Linked DNA regions of Homo sapiens. The protein of the gene in region 2 purifies or fractionates together with the protein of the main gene of each other region. This does not show direct contact. Each region holds a gene or a part of one and is shown on either strand. Other genes may lie near its edges.

The links.
Region 1: the proteins of SV2A (region 2) and HELLS purify together in Homo sapiens (affinity purification with mass spectrometry; one large-scale study listed by BioGRID and IntAct). This does not show direct contact.
Region 3: the proteins of SV2A (region 2) and JPH1 purify together in Homo sapiens (affinity purification with mass spectrometry; 2 studies listed by BioGRID and IntAct, with this or other methods). This does not show direct contact.
Region 4: the proteins of SV2A (region 2) and TUBA8 purify together in Homo sapiens (affinity purification with mass spectrometry; one large-scale study listed by BioGRID and IntAct). This does not show direct contact.
Region 5: the proteins of SV2A (region 2) and WDR11 purify together in Homo sapiens (affinity purification with mass spectrometry; 2 studies listed by BioGRID and IntAct, with this or other methods). This does not show direct contact.
Region 6: the proteins of SV2A (region 2) and SLC25A30 purify together in Homo sapiens (affinity purification with mass spectrometry; one large-scale study listed by BioGRID and IntAct). This does not show direct contact.
Region 7: the proteins of SV2A (region 2) and TKT purify together in Homo sapiens (affinity purification with mass spectrometry; one large-scale study listed by BioGRID and IntAct). This does not show direct contact.

Annotation. Positions count from the first base shown.
Region 1 is NC_000010.11:94,548,788-94,552,287, reverse strand, and holds part of HELLS (lymphoid-specific helicase), read right to left. Parts: intron 1-3,500. UniProt on the Homo sapiens protein: Plays an essential role in normal development and survival. Involved in regulation of the expansion or survival of lymphoid cells. Required for de novo or maintenance DNA methylation. May control silencing of the imprinted CDKN1C gene through DNA methylation.
Region 2 is NC_000001.11:149,902,818-149,905,331, forward strand, and holds the end of SV2A (synaptic vesicle glycoprotein 2A), read right to left. Parts: intron 2,381-2,514; coding exon 2,197-2,380; 3' UTR 501-2,196; downstream 1-500. UniProt on the Homo sapiens protein: Plays a role in the control of regulated secretion in neural and endocrine cells, enhancing selectively low-frequency neurotransmission.
Region 3 is NC_000008.11:74,255,541-74,259,040, forward strand, and holds part of JPH1 (junctophilin-1), read right to left. Parts: intron 1-3,500. UniProt on the Homo sapiens protein: Junctophilins contribute to the formation of junctional membrane complexes (JMCs) which link the plasma membrane with the endoplasmic or sarcoplasmic reticulum in excitable cells.
Region 4 is NC_000022.11:18,120,809-18,124,308, reverse strand, and holds part of TUBA8 (tubulin alpha-8 chain), read right to left. Parts: intron 2,831-3,500; coding exon 2,608-2,830; intron 154-2,607; coding exon 5-153; intron 1-4.
Region 5 is NC_000010.11:120,861,362-120,864,861, reverse strand, and holds part of WDR11 (WD repeat-containing protein 11), read right to left. Parts: intron 2,128-3,500; coding exon 1,941-2,127; intron 1-1,940. UniProt on the Homo sapiens protein: Involved in the Hedgehog (Hh) signaling pathway, is essential for normal ciliogenesis.
Region 6 is NC_000013.11:45,404,874-45,408,373, reverse strand, and holds part of SLC25A30 (kidney mitochondrial carrier protein 1), read left to right. Parts: intron 1-2,396; coding exon 2,397-2,491; intron 2,492-3,500. UniProt on the Homo sapiens protein: Antiporter that transports inorganic anions (sulfate, sulfite, thiosulfate and phosphate) and, to a lesser extent, a variety of dicarboxylates (e.g. malonate, malate and citramalate) and, even more so, aspartate.
Region 7 is NC_000003.12:53,249,523-53,253,022, forward strand, and holds part of TKT (transketolase), read right to left. Parts: intron 1-3,500. UniProt on the Homo sapiens protein: Catalyzes the transfer of a two-carbon ketol group from a ketose donor to an aldose acceptor, via a covalent intermediate with the cofactor thiamine pyrophosphate.

The DNA.
Region 1 (3,500 bases), on a different chromosome or scaffold from region 2:
AATTTTATAGATTAGATAGTAGATATGTTTCATTTTATACAAACTCTTGACTTAAAAAGTCTAGTGGCAGATTTTTTAGTATTTTGTTTTCTCAACTAAACCAATTCCTCTACTTTTCAACAAGGATTAGTAAAAACACAAAGTCAACCAATAAAATCTAACTGCCCCTTTCCCCAGTAATTGGTGGTTTCAACTTAAGAGGAAAGTAATTGAGCATTGTTTACAGCGTGTTTGAAATGGGGGATATGAGGCTGGGCGCGGTGGCTCACGCCTGTAATCCCAGCACTTTGGGAGGCTGAGGCGGGCGGATCCCGAGGTCAGGAGATTGAGACTGTCCTGGCTAACACGGTGAAACCCTGTCTCTACTAAAAATACAAAAAATTAGCCGCGTGTGGTTGCAGGCGCCTGTAGTCCCAGCTACTTGGGAGGCTGAGGCAGGAGAATGGCGTGAACCCGGAAGGCAGAGCTTGCAGTGAGCCGAGATCGCGCCACTGCACTTCAGCCTGGGCAACAGAGCGAGACTCCATCTCAAAAAAAAAAAAGAAAAGAAATGGGGGTATGAATTCATTTTTATACTCTAAATAATGCCCTAGCACTTGGGTAGTTTTGCTGCTCCAGCTTATCAATATCTCTAAGATATCATTTTATATTGCCTTACATTTTCCTAGCTATTACATCATCACTATAGCTTTCTTTCAAAATATATTTCTTTTTCTTTTTTGAGATGGAGTCTCACTCTGTTGCCCAGGCTGGAGTGCAGTGGCACAATCCTGGCTCACCTCTGCCTCCGCCTCCCGGGTTCAAGCAATTACCTGCCTCAGCCTCCCCAGTATAGCTGGGACTAGAGGCACCTGCCACCACACCCCGCTAATTTTTGTATTTTTAGTAGAGACGGGCTTTCACCATCTTGGCCAGGCTGCTCTTGAACTGACCTCGTGGTCCACCTGCCTCAGCCTCCCAAAGTGCTGGGATTATAGGTGTGAGCCACCGTACCCGGCATCAAAATATATTTCTATTATAAAATCAGTGACTACAGTAAGATTCTAAGAATGGACCTAACAAAAGTAATGCATACTCATTACAGAAAAACTAAATGTCAAAAAATATATAAATCACCCATAATCCCACCTACACAGATAATTCTTAATATCTTGAACTCAATTTTCAGTTCTTTTAGGACAGAATTTCTTTTACTATTACCAGTATACTACTGTGGTTACAATACGCAACTACTGAGGTGAATATGAAAACAGGGAGATGAAAATTACTTACACAATATATGGATTCTTAAATTTTTAACTTTTAAAATTTAAGTTCAGTTAAAATAACGTGGGTTTAACTTAGATATAGTTGATACCTTAAATCCTGTACAGAATTAGCACTTTTTCTTTTTTCTGAGACAGGGTCTCGCTCTATCACCCAGGCTGGAGTGCAGTGGTGAGATCTCGGCTCAATGCAACCTGCGCCTCCCAGGCTCAAGCGATAATCCTCCTGCCTCACCCTCTTGAGTAGCTAGGACTATAGGCGCGTGCCACCATGCCGGCTAGTTTTTTAATTTTTTGTAGAGATGGGGTTTCACCCTGTTACCCAGGCTGGTCTTAACCCCTGGGCTCAAGCGATCTGCCCCGCCTCAGCCTCCCAAAGTGCTGGGATTACAGGCATGAGCCACCGCGCCTGGCCAGCACATATTTTTAAAACAACTAAATACAGCCAGGCATGGTGGCTCACGCCTGTAATCCTGGCACTTTGGGAGGTCGAGGAAGGCAGATCACGATGTCAGGAGTTTGAGACCAGGCCGGCCAATATGTTGAAACCCCGTCTTTACTAAAAATACAAAAAAAATTAGCTGGGCGTGGTGGCACGCGCCTGTAGTCCTAGCTACTTGGGAGGCTGAGGCAGAAGAATCGCTTAAACCCGGCAGGTGAAGGTCGCAGTGAGCCAAGATCACGCCACTGCACTCCAGCCTGGGTGACAGAGGGAGACTCCGTCTCAAAACAAACAAACAAGCAAAAAAAACCTAAATACTTGCCTGGTGCTCCTGGAAAAATTTTTCCTAAAAAAAAAAATCAGCTGGGCATGGTGGCTAATGCCTGTAATCCCAGCACTTTAGGAGGTCAAGACGGGCGGATCACCTGAGGTTGGGAGTTCGAGACCAGCCTGACCAACATGGAGAAACCCCATCTCTACTAAAAATACAAAATTAGCCAGGCTTGGCGGCACATGCCTGTAATCCCAACTACTCAGGAGGCTGAGGCAGGAGAATTGCTTGAACCCCGGAGGCAGAGGTTGCAGTGAGCCGAGACTGCGCCATTGCACTCTAGCCTGGGCAACAAGAGTGAAACTCTGTCTCAAAAAAATAAAAATAAAAATAAAAATCACTAAAGCTTTAAGATGCCATCATGGAAAAAAATAATATACAATTAATATTAAAATAATACCATGTAAGTGGTTAATCCTTAAACCTGGTCTTCTGTATTTCAAATCTTCCTATCACTGTTTTTTCTTTATTTATCAATTTCATGATTATATTACGGTAAATTGCAACTCCATCTATTAAAAGCACTGAGTGCCTGGCAGGAAACAACTCTGGGTAACTACAGTACAGAGTATGCCAATGGACACCGAGGGCAGAAATTCCTCATTATCTACCCCATTATCTCTCCCAACACCAATCCCAGATTTTTTATTGGGGGGTGGGAGGAGTTCTATTTTAGCCTACACATATCATGATCCTTTTACCTCTCCAAGAAATCTCCTGACTCCAACTATTCCCCCTCCTCCACTTCACAGGCACTATCAGTACTCAAATCTCCTAGACTAACAATGACTTCTTTTAAAGGGAAATACATGTGAAAAGTCAAAGAAAATAACTGTAGCCAATGAATGTCAAAGTCATTTTCTAGGTTCCTCACAAACCTTAGGATTTCCTAAAGCCAAATGCTTCTCATTAAGGAACTTAAGCTAGCTCTTCCTCTGTTAAGTACTTCTAAATACATGCCCATACAGACTGTATTCTCCCAAAAGAAAAGGAATCTCTACCTGTGCATAGTTAATTGTTTGGCCTCCAAAGACATGTTTATTAATCTCAAGTAGGTAGAGACTCTGAAAACTTTTCTTAGAATTTTCTAGTGTCATCTAGGCAATCACTTTTTATGAGGGTCCAGTGCAAAAAATAATCAAAAACTTTCCTTATCTGTACATAACAAGACAATGTAATACGAAACCACAACACTAATGTTTTAGCAAATTACACACTTATATTAAGATTGAAAACGGCTACATACTTTTTTTTTTGAGACGGAATCTTGCTCTGTCACCCAGGCTGGAGTGCAGTGATGCCATCTCGGCTCACTGCAACCTCTGCCTCCTGGGTTCAAGCAATTCTCCTGCCTCAGCCTCCTGAGTAGTTGGGACTGCAGGTATGCGCCACCACATCTGGCTAATTTTTATATTTTTAGTAGAGACGGGGTTTCACCATGTTGGCCAAACTGGTCTCGAAC
Region 2 (2,514 bases):
GTGTGGTGGCAGGCACCTGTAATCCCAGCCTCTTAGGAAGCTGAGGCAGGAGAATCGCTTGAACCCGGGAGGCGGAGGTTGCAGTGAGCCAAGATCACGCCACTGCACTCCAGCCTGGGCAACAAAGCGAGACTCTGTCTCAAAAAAAAAAAAAAACGTAGATTCAAGGTCCCTATCCTTCCAAACCAAGAAAAAAAAAAAGGGTTCTGATTCAACAAGTCAAGAGTGGAGTCTGGGGTCTATATTTTTAAAAAGCATACCAGAAGATTTAGAGGAAAGTTGGTTCTATTCTTATGAAACATTACTCCCAAAGTTTTCAAATCTGGGAGACTTAGAGGGCCCTCCATCTGTAGGGGAAAGATCAAGGTAGAGAGGCCAATTTAGGAAGTAAATCTGGTACACCATGTTATTCTGACCTTCAGTCCATCTCACCATTTTACCCTCCAAGGCTGTTAGGAGAATTGGATGTAGGTGGAGAGTCACAGAAGCAGGTATAGCCATTTTGTATTTTGAGGATTTGTTTCCGTTTTATTTTTCGTCAATATTTTTCACTGCATTTTTCACATCAACAGAGTTGGGTTTAGGGTTCCCCAGGAGAGCAAGGGAGATGGATGGGTCCCTCCCAGGGGTGCGAGGAAGAGGGCTACGTCCAGCATGTGGGGAGTGAGGGACAAGGGCACAGGGCACACACTCATACACTGGGCACTGGAGAAGGCAGTCTTTTGAGCACAGACACCAAAGAGTTAAACAGTCACCACCTGGTACAGTGTTACAAAATGGGGAGAGTGACCACAGGGTTGGGGCACTGGACGCAGCATGACGAAGGTGAATTTTGATTTTCTTTTTTGTTATTTTCACTTTTTTCCTTTTAACATTTTTTTAAACATTTTACAAACATCTAAAAACTACAACACGTCACAGCTACAGTGGGGTGAGGGGAGGGCACCAAAGAAAGCAGCCACACAGAGTAGGGTGGGATGGGGCAGCCTAACCTACAGAGGCTATTGTGTGGAAGGGTAAAATGGGGAAACTGAGGCTTCTAGTCCCTGCATTAGGGGTCCCTCACTCACTGCCCAACCTCTCCCCACTCAGAGGAGCTGCCAGGAGGGCCCCTGCTTCCTGCCTCTGCCCCAGCTCTTTGTGCTTTTTGATCTGCTGGTTTGACCAGATGCCTGGTTTCTTTCCCTCCCCTGCTCCCCTCCCTGTGAGGGGACAGGTAGGGAGCATGGGAGGGCAGCTGTGCTATTCCCGCCTGTGCTGTAGTGGGTGGAGCCTCTCACTCCAGAGGAGGCCTCTGCTTCTTGAGGAGGGAAGGAGATGGGCCTTGTCGGATGCCCTCAGATCTCCCTAGACTGTGGGACTCTTATCCCAGGCTGGCCTAGGGCTCCTCCATCCCAGGCTCAACACAGAAACCAGATTAGGGGAGGAACTGTGGGAGGCAGGGTTGTGTGTGCATCCGCTGAAATTACCCTTGGCTTATATTTGAGGACAGTATAGTGATACCCCCCGCCCCATGGCACATGCACACACATATGTAAGTATACATACACATTCACACACAGTCCTGCGGAGCTGCCTCAGAACTTAATCTATTAATAAATAAGAATCAGAAAGCTAATTTCATAAAATTCAGGCTTCATATTTGCAGCCCAAATTGAGAGGAAAGTGGAGGCCAGAGGGCTGAGGTTTATTGCTTCTCCCCCAGCATCCAACAGGAGATGTGAGAGGGCACCCGAGGCCCACTCTTCAGACTCTAAGAAGTTCTTTTGGTCCATGGTCTACACCAGAGCCCCAGCCCCTAGCATAATTGCATACCTGTGGTTTCACCAGGGCCTAGGCAGAGGGAATGATGGGGAAGGCAGGAAGCCTATTCTGGAACCCCTGGAACAGGGAAGCAAGGGCCCCTCTCTAACAGGGGGAGAAGGATGGGGCTCAGCCTTCTCTTGTGCAAAGTCAAGGGCAGTGGGAAATGGGGAGTACAGCTTCATCTCAAAACTGGGATGAAGGAGCCTTCCCTGTAGTCCCTGCCCACGGGGTTTACACACATGCACACGCACACGCACACACAGCTAAGACACCAAACACGGGGAGTGGGGAGTGAGGGCTCTGGAGGTCAGGATGGCAGGGCAGGGAGGGGAAGGAAGGAGTTGTTGGTCTCACAGTGTGCCTGCCAATCCCAAAGCCCTAGAGACCCCTTCACTGCAGCACCTGCCCCCGGGTCTCAGGCAGCTTCAGGGCCAGAGAGCTGCCAAGGGCAAGGGCAGCTGAGGCAAAGAGGATGGGTGCAGCCTTGGTGATTCCCACGAAGGATGTGAAGATGCTGATCCCCAGCACAGCTGCCAGCTTACACAGGGCATTCAGGAAGCCAAAAGCTGTGGTCCTGCTCAGGAGTCCCCCAGTGCAGCACGGCGCAAGGTACAGGAGGGAGGCAAAGGAAGAGTGGAGGGCAGGGAAGTGAAGTCCAGGAAGATGCAGGCAGTGTCCAAGAGGGAGAGAGAAGGTTGGAGAGATCAG
Region 3 (3,500 bases), on a different chromosome or scaffold from region 2:
AAATGGGATCTAATTAAACTCAAGAGCTTCTGCACAGCAAAATAAACCACCATCAGAGTGACTAGGCAACCTACAGAATGGGAGAAAATTTTTGCAACCTACTCATCTGACAAAGGGCTAATATCCAGAATCTACAATGAACTCAAACAAATTTACAAGAAAAAAACAACCCCATCAAAAAGTGGGTGAAGGATATGAACAGACACTTCTCAAAAGAAGATATTTATGCAGCCAAAAAACACATGAAAAAATGCTCATCATCACTGGCCATCAGAGAAATGCAAATCAAAACCACAATGAGATACCATCTCACACCAGTTAGAATGGCGATCATTAAAAAGTCAGGAGACAACAGGTGCTGGAGAGGATGTGGAGAAATAGGAATACTTTTACACTGTTGGTGGGACTGTAAACTAGTTCAACCATTGTGGAAGTGGGTGTGGCGATTCCTCAGGGATCTAGAACTAGAAATACCATTTGACCCAGCCATTCCATTACTGGGTATATACGCAAAGGATTATAAATCATGCTGCTATAAAGTCACATGCACACGTATGTTTATTGCAGCACTATTGACAATAGCAAAGACTTGGAACCAACCCAAATGTCCAACAATGATAGACTGGATTAAGAAAATGTGGCACATATACACCGTGGAATACTATGCAGCCATAAAAAATGATGAGTTCATGTCCTTTGTAGGGACATGGATGAAGCTGGAGACCATCATTCTCAGCAAACTATCACAAGGACAAAAAACCAAACACCGCATGTTCTCACTCATAGGTGGGAATTGATCAATGAGAACACATGGACACAGGAAGGGGAACATCACACACCGGGGCCTATCATGGGGTGGGGGGAAGGGGGAGGGATAGCATTAGGAGATATACCTAATGCTAAATGACGAGTTAATGGGTGCAGCACACCAACATGGCACATGTATACATATGTAACAAACCTGCACGTTGTGCACATGTACCCTAAAACTTAAAAAAAAAAAAAAGAACTCAAACAAATTTACAAGAAAAAAACAACCCCATCAACAAGTGGGCGAAGGATATGAACAGACACTTCTCAAAAGAAGACATTTATGCAGCCAAAAGACACATGGAAAAAAGCTCATCATCACTGTTCATTAGAGAAATGCGAATCAAAACCACAATGAGATGTCATCTCACACCAGTTAGAATGGCGATCATTAAAAAGTCAGGAAACAACAGAATAATGCAGTTTTAAACTAAACAACATAAGATTTAATTAAGATGGAAAATATCTGAAAATACTGCCAGCTCCTGAAAATAGGTAATTTGCCATGGAAGCGTTCAACATGTAAGCTATGACAGGCATCTTTTATTCCAGGGTTAACAACTTCTATGCACGAACACATGCATTCCAAACAATGGAGACTTTTATATCTGAGATATGTAAATTAAATGGCCAGCCTAATTTAGAAGTACTTGAAAGCCCTTTTCGAAAATGTCTATCTGATTTGCTCACCCTGTAAATGCAAAGTGGAGAGCATGAGTTATGCTCCCTTAAGAAGATCAATAATACCCGCGACAGAAAAGGCTTTCTATACAGTTGCTGAAGAAAGTGCTGGCTGTGTGTCAAAGGGGACTGCAGCCTCCCCGACAAGCTCTGGTCTCAAATAGACCCGCTGTCGTCCATGCTACTGTGATGTATTCATTCCTGACGGACAACTTGCTTATATGAAGCTGTTTTAGCTAAGAAAGGGTGGCATTACATTTTCCCACAATATTTTTTTTCCCTTCAAATGCTTTTACACCAGAAAAGGCTTTTAAAACCATTCAGTCTGGGAAACCAAGATGATCTTTCGTATCATTTACCTCTTGTTAACACCTGATAGAAATCTAAAGGGACCCCATTCCCCAACAGAATTAACAGAACCAAGAAATTACCATCTGCAGACAACAGTAAGTTTGTTTGCTTTCAAAGCCGCTCAAGCCCAGTGCCTCCTGATCAGTCAGGTTCTTTCCAATGGCAGCACTGCTAGGGAGGAGAGAACAATTTCTCCTGGGTGGCTGAACCCTTTTCCCAGCTCTCACGCCCTGGAACAGCTAATTTGCCAATATACGTAGGTACCAGGGAAGTATGAGTTCATTTCACGCCAGAGGAGAGTTTATTCCTACCAGAGGTCGCTGCAAAAAATGGAAAGGTTCCTTTTCCTAAAAATTGCATATATATAAAAAATGATTTAAATCTCAACCAGAGGTTTAAAAGAGATGCGTGTGAAAGAAAATACCCTTCTCAGTGGTTGCCTTGGACTTGAACTCTTAGAGAAGTCACTCTGTGATGATGATATCTATCATTCAACAACCACCTTGGGTCCCTCCCCAGCCTTTCTCTTATAAAAACCGAATCTTCTTTGCCTGGCCTTTTACTGTCTTCTTTCTTTGCAGGAACCTCCTGCCCCCATTCTCCAGGTCATTTCTCATTGCTCCATCCTTGATTATAGCCAAGTTTCTAGCTTTTCTACAAATCTTGCTATTTTGTTCACTTTGACTTACATCGTTCGTTAGGACTCAGTGATACCCTGTGGGTTCCGACAGCGTATACCCCTCACCAGAGCCAAACATGAATCGAACACCTACCTCATGCAGGGTGCTGGGCTAGGGACAGGATGCTAGTTATACAGCTTGATTTAATAAAAACCAGTGTGGAAAAATCCTTTACCAAGAAATGTAACTTTTAACATAAATTGAAAACATTTATTTTGGTTTCTTCACCTAGAAATCTGTTGATGCCTCAAACAATCACGGAGAATATATATAAATAGGTGAATATTGCCTTTTTGAAACTCAAAACAAAAACACTAGTATATTATAGAGAGGGGTAGAAAGAGTCTACTAGGAAACTACTAGAAAGTGAATTAAGAATTTAAACTATTGCAAATATTTGTTGATTGCTATTTTGTAACATCTGAGAGGCAGATGACCAAGATCGATTTTTTTGAGGTTGTCACTTTTATTTCTTCCATTGTGACATGCATTTTCCTCTTACTCTGTGCAGATTAATCTCTTTAAGTGGTATGCTGCTATACTTCCTAACCACAGTCCTTTGAACTTTGAACTTTAGTTCAGATACGTTAAAAAAAAGTCACAGTACTGACTGGCTCTTCTCTTACTACTAAAAGTGCCTCTGAATTTGGGGGTATTTGTTATAGAATCTGTAGCTGTCACTAAAATAATTTCTTAGAATCAGATATTTTAGATTCTTGTCTAGTTTACTGCTATCAGCTCAAACTTTGTTGGTCATATGTAGAGGGGAGGAAGGGTGAGACTCTGGGGAATAACCCATCTCCAGGGCTAACACTCAGACCTCGGGTGATATTTGTTACTACAAGTTGAACATTCCTAATCCAAAAATCTGAAATGCTCCAGAATCCAAAACATTGTGGGCACCGACACGATGCTACAAGTGGAAAATTCCACATGACCGATGGTCACAGTCAAAATGCAGTCAAAACTTTGTTCCAT
Region 4 (3,500 bases), on a different chromosome or scaffold from region 2:
TTACCAGCTTCCGTATGCGGTCCAGCACCAGGTCAATGCTCTCCTTGCCCACCGTGTAGTGGCCCCGGGCATAGTTGTTGGCTGCATCCTCCTTTCCTGTGATCAGCTGCTCTGGATGGAAGAGCTGGCGGTAGGTTCCTGCCCGAACCTCATCTTCCAAGAGAGGAAGACCATTAGGTCCTACTGCCCAGGGGAGAAGCCTCCCTCCCTACCACACTACCGCAGGACCCCTTCCGTTCTCCCCTACCTATAAAACTCCATGGAGGTTTGAAGCCAGACCACCTCGTAATGAATCTGCAAAAGGCTAAGAGAATTCCCGGGTAGCTCAGGGACTAACAGAGCCAAGGCCTGTGGCTCATGTGGGCGGTGAGAAGCAGGCTGCCCTGCTGGCTAGAACCCTAAAAAGACTTAGCTTTACAAAGCTCATCGAACATCGCCGGGCCCAGTGGCTCACGCCTGTAATCCTAACACTTTGGGAGGCCGAGGCGGGCAGATTGCCTGAGCTTAGGAGTTCAAGACCAGCCTGGGCAACACGGTGAAACCCCATCTCTACTAAAATACAAAAAGTTAGCCAGGTGTGGCAGCGTGCGCCTGTAGTCCCAGCTACTCGGAGGCCTGAGGCAGGAGAATCTCTTCAACCTGGGAGGCAGAGGCTGAGGTGAGCTGAGATCTTGCCACTGCACTCCAGCCTGGGCAACAAGACAGAGCGAGGCTCCATCTCCAAAAAAAACACAACAGCAACAAAACTTGGGCCGGCCGGGTGCAGTGACTCACGCCTGTAATCCCAGGATTTTGGGAGGCCAAGGCAGGCAGATCACGAGGTCAGGAGATCGAGACCATCTTGGCTAACATGGTGAAACCATGTCTCTACTGAAAATACAAAAAAATTAGGCAGGCGTGGTGGCCGGCACCTGTAGTCCCAGCTACTCGGGAGGCTGAGGCAGGAGAATGGCTTGAACCCGGGAGGCGGAGCTTGCAGTGAGCCGAGATTACGCCACTGCACTCCAGCCTGGGCGACCGAGCGAGACTCCGTCTCAAAAAAACAAACAAACAAAAAAACAAAAAAAAAGCTCATCGAACACCAACGCCAATTGCCTCTCCTCCCTTCCACCTTGACTCCTCCAGGTTTCCCTTTTGTTTTTTCTTTCATGCTGCAAGGTGTACCAACAATTTTTTTTTTTTTTTTTTTTTTTTTTTTGGAGACGGGGTCTCGCTCTGTCGCCCAGGCTGGAGTGCAGTGGCGCGATCTCGGCTCACTGCAAGCTCCGCCTCCCGGGTTCACGCCATTCTCCTGCCTCAGCCTCCCGAGTAGCTGGGACTACAGGCGCCCACCACCACGCCTGGCTAATTTTTTGTAATTTTAGTAGAGACGGGGTTTCACTGTGTTAGCCAGGATGGTCTCGATCTTCTGACCTCGTGATCCACCCGCCTCGGCCTCCCAAAGTGCTGGGGTTACAGGTGTGAGCCACCGCGCCGGGCCAAGGTGTACCAACAATTTAACTTAAGTCCTTTTGCATTAAAATATTCTAGGGACATGGAGAAAGATTCAGGATGATCTGCCCAGAACCTAGACCCCCAAGAGTTGTCCCACCCCTCAACTCCACCTCATGGTGGCAATAATATATGTCAGGCATTAGACATATTTTAGAATAATGGGAAGCAAAGCTATGTTCCAAGTCATAGAGGAGCAAGAGCCCTAGAGAGGCCTTTAAGGGGTCTCTGCTCACTTCCAAGGGTCCACACAAAGCGGATACAGAGCAGATCAAGACACATCAGGCCCCAACTATGTCACCTCTTCTCTTCGGGGTTCCTCTACTCCCTGCAGAAAAATCATCTGTGCAGTGGCCCAGGAGGTAACCTGCACTTTGTGCATTGGTGCAAAGCATCCAGGGGGTGGAGCATCTGCCCTCTGTTGCCCCTAGACATTGGTGTCCAGGCATATACTTCGTGCCCAGTCCTCTTTGCAGAACTGTCCATCTCTGGCTTGAGGAGCCAGGCTTGGAGCTGGGGAAATCCTGATATTCAACTGAGAGTTGACCCAGGGGTCAGAAACAGGGGAAGTGGCACTACTGGGGGATAGTGTGGGAAGGGGAGATCTGCCTAGACACAAGGCAGAATTCCTGTGTTTCCTAAACCTGAATGAACCTCATTCCAGAACTCCAGCGGCCCCTGGCTGTGAAGCAATGTGCCTGCTGTGATAGGCCCCTTTGTGTGTAAGATGCTGTGAGGTTATACCCACCCCGAGGGCAGACTCAGAAACCTATACTTAGGGAAATTGCTCACTTAGGGGTGTCTTATAATTTCTAAAATTATTTGGATTTTCTTATCCTTAGTATTTAGTAGCGATGTGACCATTTTGACCTGGTGCCGCAGGTTTTGGGGTTGAAGTGGGAGGCATTTTGTTCTGCATAGAGTCTTGATCACTGTCATGAGATTCCCCGAGACTGTGGGGACCCCAAGGAGCTGACAGATGTCACGTGGGGTGGGAGGCTGCGGTTGCACCATCCCCACCTTCCAGCTAGAGACGCTGCTTCCTTAGCTACTGTGGGCCAATGCCTCTGCAGTTTCGAGATGTTCTCTGTGGAGGGGAACTCCGCCCCCACTCACCCACTACAGTAGGCTCCAGATCTATCATGACGGCCCGGGGCACATGCTTCCCATTGCCAGTCTCGCTGAAAAAGGTGGTGAAGGAGTCATCATCGTTGATCTTGCTAGCTTGAGCATCAAAAGTGCCGTCTGCCTGGATGCCGTGTTCCAGGCAGAAGAGCTCCCAGCAGGCATTGCCAATCTGAACTCCCGCTTGGCCCACGTGGACTGATATGCATTCCCGCTGTGGGGAGAGGGAAGCAACGAGGTCAGAGAGTCTGGGCCCCCAGCATGCCTTTGCCCTACATCCCCATAACATTCACCTTGCAGGCCAGCCAGGCCCCAGCCCCCCATTGCCAGTTGGCGTTGAGGCTGCAGGTGCCCCAGCTCTATAGCAGCTGGACCAGGACTTAGATCCAAAGAAGACACAGCTGTTTTGTGCTTTGCTCTAAAGGTTGCTTCCCAGGGTTGACCTTTTATACCAGGAAAGAAAAAAGGAGGGTGGTTGCAAAGATGAAGCAAGGGGCTAATTCCAAACCACAAGATTCCTGCACTGGTGAAGAAGGCCCAAGGAAGAACTGGCGATCATGGCAGAAACTCTCCTTCAGCCTACGCCCACACAAGGCAGCATTCACAGCTGCTCCTGACCCTGACTTTCTGACATTGTGCACACATGCACACACACAGTCTCAGGATATCACAGAGCAAATGAGCACTCATGAAAGGAACATGCTCTGGAAGTATGCGCCATGGCTGTCAGTAGTATCATGGTTACCAATGTAGAAATAAAGGATTATTTATTACCCCAAGAGAGGATGGGGAGGGTATAAATTAGGCCCTTCCTGCACGCTGAACAATTGGAAAATCTTTGCAGCCCCATAGCCTGCCCCTTGCCTATGCCAGGCCAAGTGTTA
Region 5 (3,500 bases), on a different chromosome or scaffold from region 2:
AATATTGTATAGGATGGGTAGAAATGTCAGTGTTTCTAAGTTTTTGAAATATTAAGTAGTAGAATATTAAGTTATTAATATTACACAAGACATGGTAAATGATAATATAATAATAGCTGGCATGCATAAGACAGTTTTATTTTACTTTTACTTTGTCATTAAAAGTACTAGGCAAACTGTTAAAATCAAGACTCAGGATGAAAAACATCAACATTTAGGGTAATTAGGGCCCCTGGACCAGGAGTTACTGGACTATCTGTATGGCTTTGGGCAAGTAACTTCCCCTTGGCTGCCTTCATTCACTTTTAAGCTGTCTTAAATCTTTTTTGAAACAAAGTTTCACTTATATTGCAGCATTTTCTTGTGTGTAAATAAAACAGGTGAAACTATAAGGATTTTAAGAGATTGTTAGGGTCTGAAAAATCATTTTAATAATTTGTGATTGTTGCATACATTCAATGACCTTTTCTATATTAAATATATTTCAATAGGAATAGACATACAATTATGTACTATTTTCATTTTACATTTCATTTTACAAACATAATTTTATTAAAAGGCTTTGAAATTTAAAATAAAGTTAGTTCACAAGACTAGAAAGAGGAATTTTTATTGCATTAAAATCCCGACTGCCATGTCCTAGTTGGGTGAGCTTGAGTAACTTTATTTAAATTGGTGTGGGACTCAGTTTTCCTTATTTGTAAAATGGGAATATTACTACTGCCAGAATTGTAGTAAGAGTCCAGGAATTAATAGATGTGAAAGCACCCAGAGCGGTTCTACTTGAAGAAATAATGTATTTCCCCAATACTCAAGATATACATATAATTCATATGAGAGAAAACTTAAGAAATATAAAACATAACTTATAAAACTATTCAGACTGCCAAATAATTTCTTGTTTATGAGAGGGAATACATAAAAAATAGAAAGTTCTCTTAAGATACTTAAGAAGTAATCTTAAGTCATTTTGGCACAGGGTGAGAGATAAATTAACTAGTGAACTTAACCAGCCTATGGCTTAATATATAGAAGTGATACTTACACACAAGTGCAAAATGTATTTGTAGAGCAATTTATATTTTTACCACATATTTTTCAAGTAGTTACTCACCAAGCCTAGAGAGAGTAATCTTGGCATATTAAAAATAAAGGCTATCTGAAAATGAATGCCAAAACAAACAAAAAAGCCTGCCAAAGCAATAATATACAGATTATTGCTATAGGAAAAAGAAAGAAACCTATTTTGAATACATCAAATTACTTAAAATAAACTTTTATTCAGTTGTAATTTCTTAATAACAGCCGACATCTTCTAAATAAATTACTATGTATCAATGACATTACATGCTTTACTTACATTATTGGATCTATTGATCTTTAAAACAACCCTATGAAATACTTTAAAGCCTTATTTTAGAGACTGGGAGAGAGAAATTTGAGTAAGATTAAAGAAGTTTCTCAGTCTCATAGCTAAAGCTTCCCCCGGAGCCTTGGCTCTTAACCAGGATGGGAGACATCTTCACCTGCATAAGAAAAACACTCCGATTTTACTGCTGAATGAGAATGCACAGCACCTAAGTCAGGAAAATGTATTTAAAATGAGTATCCAGCTTTTGTGCCCAAATTTTTAATGCATTCAATTGCCTGAACTTTAGGATCATTGCGATTTTCACAAGTAAAAATCAGAATTCAAAAATTTTAATCTATAAAAGTCAGTGGGGAAGTTTAGCACAGCTAGTGGAAACAAAGGCAATGTTAAATGCTGAATCTCCTCTTAGGGCAGGGGACAAAAATAAATATTTTTTTCCTCTAATAAATTCAAAATTAGAAATGAGAAAAAGTGAGATGAAGAAAAACATCAGTCTTTGTACATCTCCAAAAATGATGCTTTCATACCAGATAAGTAGATGAATGTTAATTTTACACTTGTAACTTACCTAGGTTTCTCTTGAGTGATTAAAATTTTTACTTTATTTAGAGCTTTCTTGGCACCTGTGGCTGTGGCCAGCTTGTTATGAGCTGGGCTAGAGTGTGGGCTGGATATGTAAACTTTTTTCCCAGGGCCTGAGGGAGGCTTGGATGGGGAGAAGTCTGAGATGAAAACAATACCCTCGCTGGTAAGCACTATATTGAGAAAAGCAAAACTCTGATTAAAGTTTAATGAAGTTTAGCATACAGTTTTATTCCAATACAATTTTGAGAGCAATATAGTGATAATTTTAATAATATATAACTGGCAATGTTATGCATTCATAACATAATGGGAATGTTCTCTAAGTTGAAGAGAAACAGGTGGTCCATTACAATTCATCAGAGGCCTCCAAGCTTGGCATTCTATATTATGTCTTATATTAAAAAGATAACATAAGGTTATTGGCAGAAAGAACAAGTGTTTGTTCTTCTAAATAAATTCAGGGCACGGACTTTCATTAAAAATCTTTCCTTATTATCCCAGCACTTTGGGAGGCAGAGGCAGGCAGATCATGAAGTCAGGAGTTCGAGACCAGCCTGATCAACATGGTGAAACCCCGTCTCTACCAAAAATACAAAAATTAGCCAGGCGTGGTGGCACACACCTGTAATCCCAGCAACTCAGGAGAGTGAGGCAGGAGAATCGCTTGAACTGGGAGGTGGAGGTTGCAGTGAGCCGAGATAGTGCCACTGCACTCCAACCCGGGTGACAGAGCAAGATTCCATCTCAAAAAAAAAAAACAAAAACAAAAACAAAAAACAAACAAACAAAAAAACTTTAACATATCCCATAACTTAAAAAAACAAAAAACCATACTTAAGAGGCTCTGCATATCACAATTAGCTAAGTTCATATATTTTATTTGATGATACCAAATTTTTATCCTGAGCTACTCAGTCTAAATATATTCCCTTTTTCTTCTCAAGCATCAGATCGAACCTTAAGATGATTAAGGAATATTCTTTTCCCTTAATATTTAGAAAACAGTAGTGGGCCCACAGTGACTTACTAAGTGTACATGAAACAAAAATAGTCAAGGAGGGAGCACCATATTTAGCAATACAAATTATGCCTTTTTATGACTGAAAAAATAATCTCCCTCAACAATGGGCCTAATACTGGAAGACATGAGCAGAAAAACCTTACTACCCTGGGTCCCAGCCCTTAGCAAGGCTGCTCTAAACACAGGGAAAAAGGATGCATTCAAGAGTTATGACAACCCTAGCACATTCAATATGAGTAAATCAAAGATGTTAGGTCAACTGACACTCTGGAACACACAATGCTTTCATCAACCAAATTACAGAGATGTAAAGAGCTGATGCAATCAAGTTAGCTGAAAGCCTTGTTGCCTTTTCAGGTTCCAGAACTCATCCTTCAAGGTCCCCTTTGCTTCCTTCTTTTGTGATGCCCTCCTTCCCTGACTCTGCCAACTGGGCCAGCCCTCCTAGGTGTTTCCCCAGCACTGCACCTATGTGAGTAAGTAAACTGGTGACCAAGTGAGTGTATGTATGCACACGTCCAT
Region 6 (3,500 bases), on a different chromosome or scaffold from region 2:
CAATCCCCAGAGGTTTTTGTTTTTTTAATTGAGCCAATATTTTAAAAATGAGAAATTGCACATAAAAATCTGGGACTCCATCTTCTTGAGAGAAATCAACATTAGGCCCACATTCATTCAGTTATGACAGTAGTAGCTGGGGTGAAGGATACTGTCTCTGGTTTACAAAACCTCTGTCACTCACATAGTATATGTGTGTGCAGTTCGACCCAGCCTGGATCATTCACTCATGGCATCTGCTTTCTTGGTACCTGTCAGCATTTGAGTTTGCTATATCTATGGCAGACAGAAGCCACTGAAAGTGTTTAAGTAGGAGGATGGACCTGATCAGCTTTACATTGTAAACATCACCTGCCTGCCATGGAGAGAAAGAATTAAGAGACAGGGAGCACTAGAAGCAGGGCTGTCATGTAGGAAGACTAGATGAGGATCTGAATTGGTTTTGGGGATGAGGAAAAAGAAGACAGGCTAGAAAACTATTTAGGGTGTAGGACTGATAGCACTACGTGACCTAATATGAGGTTTCCATACATGAAGCGGGTAGAAGGGAAGGAGGAGCCAAGACTAATGTCTCAATTGGTGGTTTTTGCCAGTGTGTAGCTGGAGCTTCCATGTCCTGGTTTAGGAAACACAAGAGGAGAGATGACTGTTTGGAGAAGGAAGAGAAGTAGTTCAGTGTGGGACCCTATCTGAAGGTATACACAGGACATCTAAATGGAGAATCTTGGAAGATTGGAAATGTGTCTTTGGATCCATGTTGGAAGCATGGATTTGGAGTCATCAGTCTTTTATTTTATTTTTCATTTATTTATTTTGAGACAGGGTCTTGCTTTGTCACCCAGGCTGGAGTGCAGTGGCACAAAATGGCTTACAGCAGCCTCTACCTCCCAGGCTCAAGTGATCCTCTCATTGCAGCCCCCTACATAGCTGGAACTATAGGCACAACAAGCCACTGCACCTAGCTGCACACACACAAACACACACACACAATTTTTTTTTTTAGATGGCGTTTCACTCGGTTGCCCAGGCTCACTGCAACCTCTGCCTCCCAGGTTCAAGCAATTCTCCTGCCTCAGCCTCCCGAGTAGCTGGGATTACAGGCACCAGCTATGACAACCGGCCAGTTTTTTGTATTTTTAGTAGAGACGGGGTTTTACCATGTTGTCTAGGCTGGTCTTAAACTCCTGACCTCAAGTGATCCACCCGTCTCGGCCTCCCAAAGTGCTGGGATTACAGGTGTGAGCCACCGTGTCTGGCGCTACTTTTATATTTTTTATAGAGATGGGGTTTTGCCATGTTGTCCAGGCTGGTCTCAAACTCCTGAGGTGCAGTGATCTGCCTGCCCTGGCTTCCCAAAGTGCTGGGATTACAGGCATGAGCCACCGTGCCTGGCCAGCCTTTAGATGGCAGTTGAAGCCTTGGGAGTAGGTGAGCTCACACAGGGAACATGTACAGTAAGGAGAGAAGAAGCATAGGATAGATTTCTGGGGAACCCCAGCAGACACAGGTAGGATGCTGTAGAGAAAAGAAAAGAAGTCAGAGGGGGTGATGCTACAGCAGAACAGGGAGGAGACAGCTACAAGTAGGACAAAGGGTAAACAGTGGCACACACTGCAAAGAGCTTATACAAGATCCTACTTGAAAAGCCTCATTTAACTTAGCAACAAAGATGTCAGTTGGTCACCTTGAAGAGGGGAGTTTTGAGGGTGAGGGCAGCAGAAACCCTGATTGCAATTCAAGAAGGAAGTGGGGAAATGCAGAAAGACACCCGGGGAGTGTCCATGCCACAACGTGGTTGTGGTTTGGAGAGGATAATAGGACAGGCATATCGGATGGAGGAAAGTAGGCTTGTTTTTCCTGATTCTGTCTTGAACTTCTTCACTTACATTTTCATTGAGAATAAATATGAGGGGCTAGGCTTTCACTTAGTGAGCTAATAATTTGCACATCTGGACCCACCTGTGTTTTTGTTGGATTTTGAATTTTACGAAATCGTTTTAGAGGCCGGGTGCAGTGGCTCATGCCTGTAATCCCAGCACTTTGGGAGGCCGAGGCCTGAGGTCAGGAGTTCAAGACCAGCCTGACCAACATGGCGAAACCCCGTCTCTACTAAAAATACAAAAATTAGCCAGGTGTGGTGGCGGGTGCCCGTATTCCCAGCTACTCGGGAGGCTGAGGCAGAAGAATCGCTTGAACCCGGGAGGCAGAGGTTGCAGTGAGCTGAGATCAAGCCATTGCACTCCAGCCTGGGTGACAGAGCGAAACTCCGTCTCAAAAAAAAAAAATTGTTTTAGAGAATGTAGTTTGATTATGGATGGCACTCTGCATGTGGGTTGCCTAGCCGATGTTAAGTGATTTTTAGATTGCTTTTGTCCCTTTGTACATTGGTTTAACAGGATTGCCCCCGCGATGTTACGCCAGGCATCCTATGGCACCATCAAGATAGGCACTTACCAGAGCTTGAAGCGACTATTCATTGAACGCCCAGAAGGTGAGTGGGGAATCTGTTTTCCACTGTGGACAGGAGGTTGGTTGTCTGTCTTTTTATTCAAGTGGTTTTGGAGCAGGTTTTCTTCAGCTTATTTGTGACTTTCCTACTGCTACAAGAACTCTGGGTGTAAAGTCTTAGTTAATTGTGCTGAAAGCAAGTTGGTTATCAACTCAATTGAGGGGAGAAATAATGAAAAGGAACCATCTCTGCAAACATTTTAATTAGTTGTCCCCATCTCCAAAATGCCTAGACCAGGGGATGTGTTGTTACTATTCCATCCAACTTAAAATTTGCTAAAATCATATGAATTGTCATCTATTTTTCAGGAAAACAGTGAATACATTTCTTAATATTAACAACACTGAATGCTAATACTCTGGCTTTTTGGTTCTGTGGCTTTGTTTTGATCCATAGAACTGTCCATCTTCATCTCTTTTCACAATGGGATGAGTACCAGACACTATTATGTAAGAGTGGTGAACAAGAGCTAAGATGCTTTGGAAATACTTCAGGATATTTCAAACTAAATACATACGATGTGCTTTAAAAACTTTCTGTGCCAAATAAGTCGTCATGTTATCTCATAGGAATTATTGTCCTAACAGATATAGCTCATCTTAATTATGATGGTCTGAATTTATACATAAATGTGAACTGGGGCTGGGTGCGGTGGCGCGTGCCTGTAATCCCAGTGCTTTGGGGAGGCTGAGGCGGGCAGATCACTTGAGCCCAGAAGCTCCAGACCAGCCTCGGCAACATGGTGAAACACCATCTCTACAAAAAATACAAAATATTAGCCAGGCGTGGAGGTGCACGCCTATAGTCCCAGCTACTGGGGAGGCTGAGATGGGAGGATCACCTGAGTCCAGGAGGTCGAGGCTGCAGTGAGCTGTGATTGTGCCACTGCACTCCAGCCTAGGTAACAGAGTGAGACCCTATCTCAAGAGAAAAAAAATAAAATCACATTTAGATATCAATAAATTTTGCAAAGCAAAATTCCTTCATTAGT
Region 7 (3,500 bases), on a different chromosome or scaffold from region 2:
AGTGAGCCAAGATCGCCGCCCCACTGCACTCCAGCCTGGGTGACAGAGCGAGACTCTGTCAAACAAACAAATAAATGAAGAAAAAGGTGCTAGGAGAGCTCAGTAGAGGAAGTTCTTGGGCGTCCACACTTCCCTTCCAGCTGTGTAGTCCTCGGAGATTCCACCCAGTGCACAAATGCAACTGACTTCTGAGCAACCCCCATCTGCAGGTGGGCTCACCCCAGCTCCCAGCACATCCTCTCTCCCCTACCTTGCCTCTCCATTCAGGGCAGGAGCAGAGCCTGCCTGAGGACCTAGCTCTGTGCAGGTCCCTGACCTCTAGAAGTGTCCCCAGCACCCAGGGCAAACTGGTCTGTGGCAAGAAGGGAGTTCCTGATTTTGTGGAACTAGGCGACAGTGACAACAAGCCTGCCACAAGAGACAATGAATGTTGAGGGGTCAGAGCCACAACAGGGGCCGGACATCAGTTAGAGTCCATAGGAAGCCACGACAAAGTCTCAGCCAGATCCTAACTAGGTGCTGTACTTCACTTCCAGTTTCTTAAAACACCGACCACCAGCCCTGCAGAGGAGAGGTCACTCGGGCAGAGAACCAAGCCACCCCAGGGTGGCCAGTGTCTTCACACTGAGTGAGGAAATGCTGCTGCTGGGGCAATCTCAACGGTCATGCTCTTGCCTCAGTCAGGGCCAGGATGGGTCCTGAGGCAGCCCAAAAACAGAAACAGGCCCAGAGAGGCGGAGCCACATGGGGCCAGAGACCCCAGGAGGCCCTCAAGCCTTCAGCCAAAGCACCTGGATGTCAGAGCTGGGTAAACTGGGATACAACCCCAGCCACTTTAAGGGCACAAAGAGCACCAGGATGTAAAATCAGCAACAGCGGGCGGTGGGACCCCGGAGCCCACTCACTCCATCCCCAGCCCTACTCCTGAGGCACCCAGTTTGAAACCACCTATCCATGAACCTCTCCTTTCAAGATGGAGAAAATGGCCTGTAATCCCAGTACTCTAGGGAAGCTGAGGCAGGTGGATCGCTTAAGCCCAGGAGTTTGAGACCAGCCTGGGCAAAATGACAAAACCTCAACTCTACAAAAAATACAAAAATTAGCCAAGGCATAGTGGCTCATGCCTGTGGTCCCAGCTACTTGTGAGGCTGAGATGAGGGCATCATTTGAGCCCAGGAGGCGGAGGCTGCAGTGAGCAGAGATCACGCCACAGCATTCTAGCCTGGGCAACTGAGAACCTGAGATAGGAAGGTTTTTTTGTTTTGTTTTGTTTTTTTAAGAGCCAGGGTTTCACTGTTGCCCAGGCTGGAGTGCAGAGCCATGATCATAACTCACTGCAGCCTTGAACTCCTGGGCTCAAGTGATCCTCACACCTCAGCCTCCCAAGTAGCTGGGACTACAGGCACATGCACAGCTCTTTCTTTTTTTTGTAGAGATGAGGTCTCACTATGTTGCCCAGTTTGGTCCTGAACTCCCAGGCTCAAGCAATCCTCCCACCCTGGCCTCCCAAAGTGCTGTGAATACAGGCATGAGCCACCGCACCTGGCCGGAAGGGCCTTTCTGACAAAGGCACAGCCACTAGGAACAGAGCCAGGGTTGGACTCATCTCCTGTGTCCACCAGCCAGGACTGGCCAGGCATTAACCTCCCCAAAGCTGTGGGTCAGAAACCCTGGGGGGACTTGTTGAAAGCACAGACCACCTTCCCTTTTGAATCAGGCCTGACTGTGATGGAGTCCTCAGATGACACTTGCACTGTTTGGATAACACCACAGTCTGGCCCTGGTGAGAACTGAGAAATCTTTGCCACCAGCCTCAGCATCCAGGCCACTTCTGACAAGGCCACTGGGGTTTTGTTTTTTTAAAGCCAGGATGAGCTGGACCCTTGCCATAATTCCTTCAGCCCATGGAAGGAGATGACCCCAGAGAAGCTCTAGCCACTGTGGGCGCTGCCTCAACAAAGAGCCTTCTGTGAGGTCTGTCCCTTCACCTCCAGGCCCAACTCCTGACAGAGGCCAGTGTCCCTGCTTCCTGGGCCTGGTGAGGTTCACTGCACACGGGTCAGCAATGGCATAGGAATGGGAAAGCTATCGAGAAACGAGCCTGGGTCCTCACAGAATGTACAAATCCTGTCTCAGTAAGTGGCCAGCAAAAGATTGGACCAAAGCTAGACATGGTAGCACATGTCTGTGGTCCCAGCTACCCAGGAGGGTGAGGCAGGATTGCTATAGCCTAGGAGTTCAAGACTGCAGGGAGCCATGACTGTGCCTCTGTACTCCAGACCTGGTGGGTGACACAGCAAGACCCTGTCTTAAAAAAAAAGAAAAAAGGAAAAGGGGCCAGGAGCGGTGGCTCACGCCTATAATCCCAGCACTTTGGGAGGCCGAGGCGGGCGGATCACCTGAGGTCAGGAGTTCAAGACCAACCTCAACATGGAGAAACCCCGTCTCTACGGGGTAAAAATACAAAATTAGCCGGGCGTGGTGGTGCATGCCTGTAATCCCAGCTACTTGGGAGGCTGAGGCAGGAGAATTGCTTGAACCTGGGAGGCGGAGTTTGTGGTGAGCCAAGATCGCACCATTGCACTCCAGCCTGGGCAACAAGAGTGAAACTCCATCTCAAAAGAAAAAGAACTGGATCAAAGTCCTGTGAGCTCCCCCAGAAAAGGGGACATTCTGACAAACTGTCACTTTAGCTGTGACTACAGCCCAGATTGGGCCAGGGCTTCCGGACTGAGCCTTCACTCTATGCCTCATTGCAGAGAGGGAACAGTGGGCCTCAAGATAAACATCTGGGGACAAGAAACAGAAGACTACCTGTGTCTCAAGTCTTCCTTGATTAGCTTTTGGGTGCAAACACACACATACTCTTGGCTCACAACTTTCAAAATATGGGTTGCATAGCAACGTTATTTCCTTCTGAAAAATAAGTTTTCCCTCCTTTTTTGCATATTTTAAACATATACATACACACACACAGTCACTGTATTTTACATATCCTTTTTTTCTTTTGCAAATGGATATTTTTTGAGTTCAGTGAGCTTCCCTCTCCAAGACATTACAATGTAAACATGGTGTAACTCTCGGACACCACAGTATGTTTCCGGAGGGGTAACGGCGGTGAGGAAATCAGACTTTGCCTAACAAAGAACTAGGAGACACACTTGACATTCCACTCTTTTGGAGCACCCTACATTTGTAAATCTTATTTCTCTCCAAGTGCCTTTCAGACTGACTAATATCCACCGCGGCTGTACCTGGCCTTCCCTTTCACCTTTTTCACCATTCTCCAGCCTGGCACAGACTGCTTGCCCAAGAGGCATTCTTTTTTTTTTTTGAGAAGAAGTTTCAATTTTGTTGCCCAGGCCAGAGTGCAATGGTGCAATCTCAGCTCACCGCAACTTCTGCCTCCCGGGTTCAAGTGATTCTCCTGCCTCAGCCTCCTGAGTAGCTGGGATTACAGGCGCCCGCCACCACGTCCAGCTAATTTTTTGTATTTTTAG